Linked DNA regions of Homo sapiens: region 2 is linked to region 1. Evidence: fine-mapped expression QTL. A gene starts in region 1. The other region holds a variant in brackets. All regions are shown on one strand. Distances are between the middles of the regions.

Region 1 (5,388 bases):
TGTTCCTGCCTTGAAATGTGTCCTCTAGAACATCAGGCATCAGCAACATAGAGGTACTTGTAGTTCCCCAAATAAGCCATGCTGTTTTGTGCCCGTCTGTCTTAGAATATTTTGTTTCTACCACCTGCATACTCTTACCTGGGCTCCCACTCCACTGCTCAACCATTGCCTTGGGAACTCCCTTCCATTATTTAAAAAAAGCCATCTCCAGCATGAAGAGGCCTTTTCTGGAAATCTCCCTAAAATCTGAACACTCTTTTCTACATACCCCTATTGCACTTAGCATGTACTTCCATTGTTTAGGGAAAATTTAAAAGTCTTTCTATGTATTGGTTTCCTCATCTGATAAAAGAAATGATGTCTTAGTCAGTTTGGGCTGCTATCATAGAATACCATAGACTGGGGCACTTAAACAGTGAACATCTATTTCTTACAGTTCTGGAGGCTGGAAAGTCTGAGATCAGGGCACCAATATGGCTGGATTCTGATAAAGGCTGTCTTCCTGGTTGCCACACAGCCGCTTTCTTGCTGCGTGCTCATACGGCGGAGGGAGAGAGAGAGAGAGAGAAACAGAGAGAGAGAGAGAGAGAAACTGCATGCTCCAGTCCCTTTATACCTTTCTAAGGGCACCAATCCCAGTATGGGGTTTTCACCCTCATGACCTCACCCTACCCCAATTATGTCCCAAGGCCCCGCCTCCAAATATCATCACATTGGGGATTAAGACTTCCACATATACATTTTAGGGGGACACAAATTTTCAGTCCGTAGCAAATTATAAAGTGTTTGTTTCTAGTCTTGAGGAGTAAATGGGGTTAATGCATTCATATCTCTTAGGAGAGAGAGCACTTGATATACATGAAGCATTCAATGCATGTTGTTGTTGATGCTGGTGGTTGCAGCATGCACCCCCCTGTAGCGCACATACCTGATTGCTGTTTTTTCTTCTCCAATGTGCTATGGGAATTTTGCAAGTAAAGACCATATCTTGCCCATCACTGACTCCCCAGCTCCCAGATGAGGCACAAAAATAGTGCTCAGATAGTTTGCTGAGGACTGAGTGAGTAAAGATGACAGCTTTCCTTTTGGAAGAATGGCACCAGCCACCCTTTATATCTCTGGAAAAAGCAAAGAGGAAGAGGAAGACGCAGTGGGAAGCTTGCAGATTACACAGTAGGAAGTGATTCCAAGACCTTCCGACCCCCTCCCCGAAACAACAGCACCAACGTACACTAATAAACATCTTTGCTAAGGTCATCTCTCTGCATGTTTTGGAGTGGATTGAAAATTAGGAGAAGAAAAACCTGTAAATCACGGAATCCAGGGTCTAGTCCTTCTTTTTCCATAGACTCTATAAATGGCTTTGGGTGAGCTTTCGCTTCTTAGTTCATAAAATTCAGGAAGATGAGATGAGTGATATCTCAGGTTCTCAGCATCTCAGACATTTAAAAATAAATAAAATACAGAATAAAAATTAGACACATTGTGGTTCTAAGGACTTCATAATCTTCCTTGAAACCCATAGATGGGATCGGACAATCATGAAAGGTTGCAATTAATTTCCACAATGACATGACTTACCTTGGGACTGGGGGCTTCATAGACCCAAGACAAGTGTGGAGAGTAGGGCATGGATCCAGGGATCCTTGGTGTCTGGCCTCATCCTGTTACCCGAGAATGATGAGCCCTTTGGCAAGCTATTGAAATGCCCTAGGCCTCAATGTTCTCATCTGTAAAATAAGGAGATAGAACCTACTTTATAGGGTAGTTATAAGAGTCAGGTATGGACGTGGTACATGGTAAGTCCCCACTCCTCCACTATGGCTATTAATGGAGAGAAGAGTCCCTGTTGATTACAGTCATCAGGGGGTGGAATTTGAGATGGAGCTTGAAAGATGAATACTAATCAACTGGACACAGAGAGGTGAGGAACGAGATGTATCCAAGCCTAGTAAATGACGATGATGTGAGGGTAGTGGTGGTTTAAATGTGTATCATGCATCATTTGATTCTCAAATCAACTGTATGAAGCCAGTGCTATGATTTGTCCCTTTTTAAACGTGAGACAACATGGTTCAAAGAAGTTAAGTAACTTACCCAACATCACACAGCTAGTATGTGGCTGAGCTGAGATTGGAATCCGTGTAATCCTGCTGCAGAGCTCATGTTCTTAACCGCTATGTTCTTCTATGTTTATAAGAGTCTGGGAAGAGCTTTGACTATCAGGCTAACATCTTTGCACAGTTAGCTGGCATGATTTGGTGGCCTTTGAGGAAGAGCAGAGGTCGGATGTGGTGCCTCACACCTGTAATCCCAGCACTTTGGGAGGCGAGGCGGCTGAATCACTTGAGGTCAGGAGTTTGAGACCAGCCTGACCAACATGTTGAAACCCTGTCTCCACTGAAAATGCAAGATTAGCTAGGCGTGGTGGCACACTCTTGTAATCCCAGCTACTTGGGAGGCTGAGGCAGGAAAATCACTTGAACCCGTGAGGCAGAGGTTGCCGTGAGCCAAGATCGCACCACTATGCTCCAGCCTGGGCAACAAGAGCGAAACTCCATGTAAAAACAAAACAAAACAAAACAAAACAAAACAAAACAAAACAAAACAGAGATCGTCTAGAGCCAGGCTCCAGTCCCCTTGCTGCGGAGGAGGAAGGGCATCAGCCCTCTCTACTTTGAGAAGCCTCCACAATGCCCAGGTTGCCTGATGGCTGAGTCACAGCTCTCATGATCCTGGCTGGCAAATTGGAGACACCCTTAATTGGATACTGAACAAACTCTGCCTGCTGCACAACGGCTCCAACAGAAGAGTTATAGCTGTTTACTGTAACACACAGACAGTCCTATTAACAAGAATGATGGGAGGCTGCTCCATGGCATTACTCTTAGCAAAAGACTTGAAAAATATGCTTTGTAAATGAAGGCACTCCAACAGAGAAAACATCTAACACTCCCTCTCCCCACCCCCACCCACCCCACCTCTTCCTGGGGAGACTTTGCATGTGGAATCCTTTATACATTGTTCAAAGTTCCATATTCTGACGACGTTCATCAATAGTGGTGCCTATGGCAGGGAGAAGCTTGTATCAACTGACAAATGTAGACAAGGCAGGCTGCTTAACCCAGGAACAGTGGGTCACAGCACAAACAGGGAAATTGATGGTGCCAGCCATATTTCTGCGGGAATGGAGGCGTAAATGAACACCATATGTCACAGCTTATCACGTACGGTAGGAGGGAACTGTGAATGGCGCAGCGTGGCCTACTTAGGAATGCTGATGGATCATTCGCAGCCAGCTTTTGTTCCAGACTGGGGTTTGTCTTGTCTACAGACTTTGGGGCATCTTCAGGGTGACAGCCATAGTGTGCTTGCCTCCTCAGCTCCAGGGATTGGCAGTGGGCTCTGCTGAGTGGAGAGGGACAGAGCTGTCCAAGTCATAACCACTGGTTACAGGGCTGAATGTACCATTGCACCCGCTAGGCTCATGGATCTTCGTAGGAATACAGATTATGCAATTCCTAAGAGGAAAGAGGATGCCAGGGCTTTGGCATCAGTTATAATAGGTACCAGTCTCTCATTTATTAGCTTGTGGGGACAAAGTAGTGACCTGAGTCTCCAATACCTCACCTAGGAAGTGGGAACGTAACAGTACCTCCCTCACAAGATCAAAATCAGGATTGACTGAGTTAATATGCAGGGAGCTTTTCAAAGAAAGTATGGCAGCCAACACACACCCAATAAATGCTAACTGGAGTGCAGTGGCATGATATTGGCTCACTGCAACCTTTGCCTCCTGGGTTCAGGGGTTCTCGTGCCTCAGCCTCCTAAGTAGCTGGAATTACAGGCATGCACCACCACACCTGGCAAATTTTTGTAGTGTAGGATTTTGCCACATTGGCCAGGCTGGTCTTGAACTCCTGGCCTCAAGCAATCTTCCCACCTCGGTCTCCTAAAATGCTGGGATTACAGGCATGAGCCACTGCACCCATCTCAAGAATGGAATGTTTAAAATGCTTACTTTGGAGTCCCAGTTCTGGTAACAAGTTAGTTATTCATGGGATCTTGGCAAGTCACATGATCCCTTAGACTTAGGTTCCCCTTCTGTCAAATGGGGAAATTAATAGATAATATCCATAAAGAGCAGGATAGAGTATCCTCACCATAGAAAGCCATTGGAGACAGGTGGTCTTTGATATTTTCTGAATGAAGAGGGACAGCCTGGGGCAGAGACCTCCACATTGTCTGCAGCTCTCAACATCCATGATGCCATGGGGAGGAATAATATTAATTTTCTGGGGAATTATGTTAGCTCTCTCTGGATTGGTCAGAGATGAGTCTAACCTTCCTCTCAAGAGAGAGGAAATGGAGAAGATAATGCTAAAATAAAATAAAAATAAAGTGTATTGAGTATTTCCTGTGCATTAGGCACCTTTGAGCATCTCATTTAAAACTCACAACAACCCTGTTAGTTGTATTATTATCCCTATTTTGCTGACTGCCATAGACACCAAAAGCTCTTGAGCACAAAAAGGAGAGGAGACTTGGCAGGGGATTCTGAATCCATGGCAAAGTCACCATGGAGGGCCCACGTCGCCCATCCCCGCTTCCACCCCTATTGGAGAGGCATCAGGAAGCCTCTCTGGGAAACTTTTTCCTTTTATATCAGCTAGTTCAGAATGGCCATACTTTTATTTATTTTTATTTTTGATTTTTGTGGATACATAGTAGGTGCATATATTTATGGGGTATATGAGACGCTCTGATACAGGCATGCAATGTGTAATACTCGCATCATGGAAAATGCGGTATCTATCCCCTCAAGCATTCGTCCCTCCTGTTAACAATCCAGTTATACTCTTTTAGTTATGTTAGAATGTACAATTAAGTTACGATTTACTATAGTCCCCATATTGTGCTATCAAATACTAGGTCTTAATTCATTCTTTCTAACTATCTATTTTGTACCCATTAACCATCCCCATCTCCTCCCCACCCCCTCACTACCCTTCCCAGCTTCTGGTACTCATCCTTCTACCCTCTATCTCCATGACAGAAGGCCATTTTCAAGCAAGGCTGGACAAGTTCATTCTGTTCCCAGCCAGACACCCATGCAGCAATAAAACCGCCCAAGTTTCTGATGAGGAAAATTGGCCTTAGTCTTTTTCAATGAGCTCACATCTAGAAAGAGCTACAGCAGCCGAGAAAGGCTGTAACAGCATCAGGGGTGGGGCTGGGTGAGTCAGCTCAGGGGTTTTCCTGTCAGGAGCCTGTGCTGGGGAAGATGGAGGGAACGGACACACACACCTGTGGTCTGAGGGGGAGAAGTCTTGGCAGCCAAGGAAGACCAGCAAGTGACTTCAGACAAGTCTCGTAGTCTCCAGAAGC
Region 2 (5,388 bases), 210 kb after region 1:
CCTTTTCTGTTTCATAAGGACACCCATCATTGGATTTAGGGCTCATCCTAAACCCAGCATTATCAGGTCTAGAGATCCTTAATTCCACCTGCAGAGTCTATATTTCAGATATGGCCATATTCACAGGTACCGAGGATCAGCACATATCTTTCTTTAGGGCCACCATTCAACTACTACACTCCATTTTATTTTTTCCCAAAGTTGTCTCTTCTGAAGGGAAGTTGTCCCTACCACTTAAAAGAGTGAAAAGGGACAGTACCAATAATTATGATGCCCAAAGTAGAAGAGTGCATTTCTAGAAAGCAGGGATTGAGGCAAGGATTACAGTAATGATACTCCGAGAGCTGAAAGCCCAGGACAATAAGGGTTGTGGGGGAAAATGGAGGGAAGACAGGGAAAGATAAGAGGTAATGCTATGCATTGCATTTCAGTGCTGAGCACTACTTTATAAGTGCTGCACAGAGGCAAATCAGGTATGCTGAGCAAGTCTGGTGGCCCAGCAGAAAGGATGTTCACAGAGAGTGTTGCAAAAAAGATGTACACTTAGGAGAAGGGTCTATAAAAGAGAAAAGAGGAGGAATCTATTCCTCTAGCTCCTTCTATCTCCTATTTCCCTTTGGTCAAGTTTCACTCCATGAAGGACCGATCTTCCACACTTCAAGGTTATATCATCTGCCCTTGAACTTCTCTCAGGTAGTTGGATCCCATACCTCACAGTGTTGTAGTCCATTCAAGATCAGAAGTGGAGGGCTGACTCAACATGGTTCAGCGTACTGGAAGTGAGGATCATCCAGGCCCAGGGCTTCAACCTTGACCCCAGCCAACTCAGGGAAACTAGCAAGGGCACCAGCAAAGATGGCAGCCAAGTGGTCCAGAATGTGGGTGGTAATTTTCCAGGGAAGGAGGCTGTAGAGAGAAATCCAAGAAGGCTCATGTTTTGTGCCTGATACTAGTATCAAGGCTGGGAAATATACCAGGGGTCTACCAAACTGAACACCAAAGAGCATTTATCTTCTTTCTTTGTCTGTGATCTAACCACTTGGCTTCAACTGTTGGTGAATTCACAGAGACAGTTTTTATGTCAAGAATTTGCTGTAAATACTCAATATTTTTTACTTTTAAAGGTTGTGTGAGAGCTGTAGTAATATGGAGTAAAAAGGGAGTTAGAGACTTCATTAACTGACAGTTTCCTTTCTGGCACAGGTGCTAATCTAAAAAAAGAAAAATAAATACCCTGACTAACTGGTTTGAGGAAATGCATAATAATTTGTTTTGTAAAGCAAAAAGTAAGCAATGAAATGATATGTATATATATATTGTTCACCTGAATTATTTACTTATTTTTTTATTTTTTTGCTTAACAAGCAGAGAGGGAAGAAAGAAAAATAGCATCTGCCCAACCCAAGCTTTTTATTATATTTTTTAATGGTGAATCTTGCTAGAACCATAATGAAGCTCTGGAAGAAATAAAAACTTATGATCAGAACAAGCATTATAGACATTTATGTAAAATTGAAAGTGAATAGTATTTTCCCATCTGTTACTAATTCATAACCGGATTCTCTCTGGTATTGTGACTGAAGTACATTTTTATAATTCATTTCTTGGCTTAACTGTTGGGGAGTTCTCGACTTTGTTAATTTCACAACATCAGATGTTCATGAGGAAGTTACCATTATGACTCACAGTCAACATGTTATCAATTCCAAGAGGGAAGGATGTTAGCCAGATAAAGTGGTGAATCGGAGGTTTTAAAATAGAGCTTTATTTCTAAACACCCTATGTTCCAGGAAACTATTGGGGAAACTAGGAAACGGCTCTGGGGCTGGTTTTGAGGATCCCATATGCACAATCACAGCACACCAGGCCATCCCGTGATCAAACAGCCCTCTCAATCCCTGTGTGTCCCACGATGCCAAAACCCATTAGCTACTCATTAGCAAAGGTGAATGAACATTTGACAGAACAGAAGCAATCTGCCTGGGAAGTGGGGAGACACAGGAAAGGAGAGAAAGAGAGAGAGATACAAGAGAGAGAGAAAGGGAGAAGGTGGGGGGAAGAGAGAGAGGGAGAGAGACTGAAAGGATGGTGGAGGGAATTCTAAGCTTAGACAGTCCCACACTTTGGCATTCTAATCTAGAACAACTTCATAACTAAGAGTAAAGGAAAATCACTATTTCTTAATAACAACAACCACAAGCAAAGATTTCCATAAGCCCAAAAGTTTAAAAGCAGAATGTTATTTTAAGCAATCTGCTGTTCGGCTAACATTTGTGAGACACGTAAAGGAAGGTAAAATTAGACTGAACCTAATCAAGATTTATTGTATTTTTGCTCAGTCCATTGAGTTTTTAGTACAGTAAATGTTCTTTTTGTTTTTTTCCCATCATAATTTCACTTTCCAGGTTAATTTCCGAATCTTTGCTTATATGTTGCTAAGTAGAAGCTACAATATTTTTACCATGGAAATATTTGTTTGGTTATTTGATACACAAACATAGCCTGAAACAACAAATATAAAA[C/G]AAGACATATGCACGTATGATATTTCCCAGAACATGAATCTTGTCATATTGAAGTGAACTGAATTCATTATTTTTGGATGCTCTACTCTCTTTCCTCTAGTTATTACTGAGCCAAAAAAGGTTTAGTTGGTGTAAGAAAATTGGTACAACAGTTCAGAAAAGCATAGTTATTCCCAATGCAGAAACTTTAGAAAAGCATGATTTCAAAATGAGTCAAGTTTAAATTGTCTGACATAGTTACTCCAAACGCAAAAACTCATCCTAAGGAAATAATCCTCCTTTGAAGGAAATATTTTTCGCTCAGAATTATTGACTACGAAGTTATTAACAATGGTGAAAACTTCAAAACCATTTCAGTGAATCACCATGATTATGAAAAATGAGGGAAACTCATTCGTTAGGCCAAACTGTCACCATTTATTTTTAAATTTATTTATTTATTATTTTTTGAGATGGAGTCTCGCTCTGTCACCCAGGCTGGAGTGTAGTGGTACGATATTGGTTCACTGCAACCTCCGCCTCCTGGGTTCAAGCGATCCTCCTGCCTCAGCCTCCCAAGTAGCTGGGACTACAGGTGCCCACCACCATGTCCAGCTAATTTTTTGTATTTTTAGTAGAGACAGGGTTTCACCACGTTAGCCAGGATGGTCTCGATCTCCTGACCTCATGATCTGCCCACGAGGCCTTGTGCTGGGATTACAGGCGTGAGCCACCAAGCCTGGCCTTAAAATTTATTTTTATGAGTATTGTGTAGTTTCAGGGGAAGATATCTCAGAGAAAGATTAGTATGGCTAGTCAGATGAGGATACCGTAAAATTGGTCTTTTGCCAGCAGAGTGCTCTCTGGTTATGAAAACGGAAATTGGAAAGAAAACAAGCAAACAAATAAATCAAACCAAAAAAAGAAAAAAAAAATTCTTCTTTACAGTTTTCAGACCTGGTCCTATTTTTTCTGAGCTCAACTTTTTCAGGCTATTTAAACAAAATACAGTAATAATAAAAATATTAAGAGTAGCAACAAAAGTTTTCTTAAAGTACTCTACAATAAACCTATGATGTCTCTACTATTCTCAGTTTGCAGGTGAGAACACTAAAGCCTAGAAATATTCAATCACACTTCTGAGTTCTCACAGTTATTAAGTGGTTGGATAAAGCATTTGAATTCAGGTTGGTTTGACACCAGATCTGTGTGCTTGTGCCAGCAGTATTTAATATGCTCCTTAAGGTTAAAGTTAGAGAAGGGACGATTACAAAATATTAAGAAAGATGATCCACAAGTGTGAAAACCATGAAAAAATGAAAATAGAAATTAAGGACACTATGAGTTCTGAGATAATCAAATACTCTTTGGAAAAGGAAAAATTGATGAAAAACTTTAATAAGATCTTCTATATTCAGCATCCTTTATTAGGGTTTGCAACATTATCTCCAATGACAGCAATGGCAACAAAAACATAGAAATAATAAAAATGTCCATCCATAGGGGATGGATGGACTCAGTGTTGTTTCATCAACCTGATAGGAAATTATGCAGATATTAAAAATTATTATTATAAAACTGAGTGGAAATACAAAAAATGTTTTTGATCAACTATGAAATGAATAAAGCAGAACATAAAATGACGTGGGCAATATTAATGCCATCTTCTAAAAATGTGGGTCTATTCTCAGGGACTGGGGTAAGGCATTTAGAAGTGAAAATAATTGTGTTTTGGATAATATTTCTGTATTACAATATAATTGGGCTATTATATCTTTCTTCCAATAATAGACATAAACACACACATCTTTTAGGTATCATGAGTTTCATATCTTTGCTCATTTTAATATGTAGAGCTCAACAGGATAAAAGAACAAATTCTATGCATCCATGCAAATGGAATGGAATAATGAACCCATTGTATCCATTATACAGCCTCAAAAATTATTAACTTTTTTCTGCATAAGGCATTTTTATTATTGCAAAACTAATATGAAGTTTGGGAAAAAATAATCCTGGAGATCTTCTTCAGACCTGGGGAAAAGTGTTGTGTTAGAAGTTGAAAATCTACTGACTGATTCGACTACAAGTTGTCACTCATCTTGGCCCTCCATTTGAGCCAAGAACTGCAGCCATCTCTATTTAATAGGTAGGTGTTAAGGGTTGAGTTAAAAAAAAATAGAAGAGTGAGAAGAGAAAAACACTAGAAATCTGTGCCTGGTTGTCAGAGGGAGGTAATTAAGTGTAACATGAATCAGGGAAAATGATGTCCACTACCAGGCCCTTGAGGCCTCCCAGAGGCTGAACCAAGATGACAGGTTAAAACCATGAGTGAAGTTAAACATCACCGAAGGGTACAACTACCTCAACACCTGGTGAGTAAATATGATTCAGACACATGCACAGGTAGAGAGTGGTTTAGACTAAGGGAAGATATTTTAAGGACTATAACTAAGTACCCCTGTGAAAGAAATTGGGAGTTCATTCATTAATTGATCTGTTTATCCATCTATCCACCTGTTCATCCATCCACCCAACCATCTACCCATCCATCCATCCATCTGGCCAGTCAGCCAATAAATTATAATTTTGCAGAAAATGAAAGACCTTCAGAATGTCTGGAACATGTAGTACAGGGTTAGTGTAGAAAGAGTCTTAAGAAGAGGCTTTGTCCAAAAGTTTAGACTTTACCCTGAGCCTGATGGAAAACAAACTGAAAAGTTTTGAGCAGCCAAGTGATAAGATAAGATCTGCCTTTTAGAAGCAAGTGGCTAGTAATTAGCATATGGTCACCAAAGGGCTGCAGACTTTAATTTCCCAGAGAGGCAAATAGAAAAGGGGAGTGTCTGAGTTGTCTGACCAAGCCTGGAAAGAAACATTCTGGCAG

What was found. PIP is the estimated chance that this variant, and not a neighbour inherited with it, causes the effect.
Region 2: its variant is the best candidate, but not a certain one, in a credible set for the expression of LINC02152 in thyroid (GTEx, PIP 0.56).

What each region holds. Positions count from the first base shown.
Region 1 is chr16:8,293,470-8,298,857 of GRCh38, reverse strand. It overlaps LINC02152 (long intergenic non-protein coding RNA 2152), which reads right to left and starts at 2,427. Exons shown (of 2, transcript NR_184340.1): 1 at 2,098-2,427; 2 at 1-1,730.
Region 2 is chr16:8,084,466-8,089,853 of GRCh38, reverse strand. All of the region lies in intron 1 of LOC105371069 (a long non-coding RNA gene), which reads left to right. Among named protein-coding and RNA genes, the nearest start is that of LINC02152, 210 kb to the left of the region's middle. The variant C/G (reference allele first, on the strand shown) is at 2,523.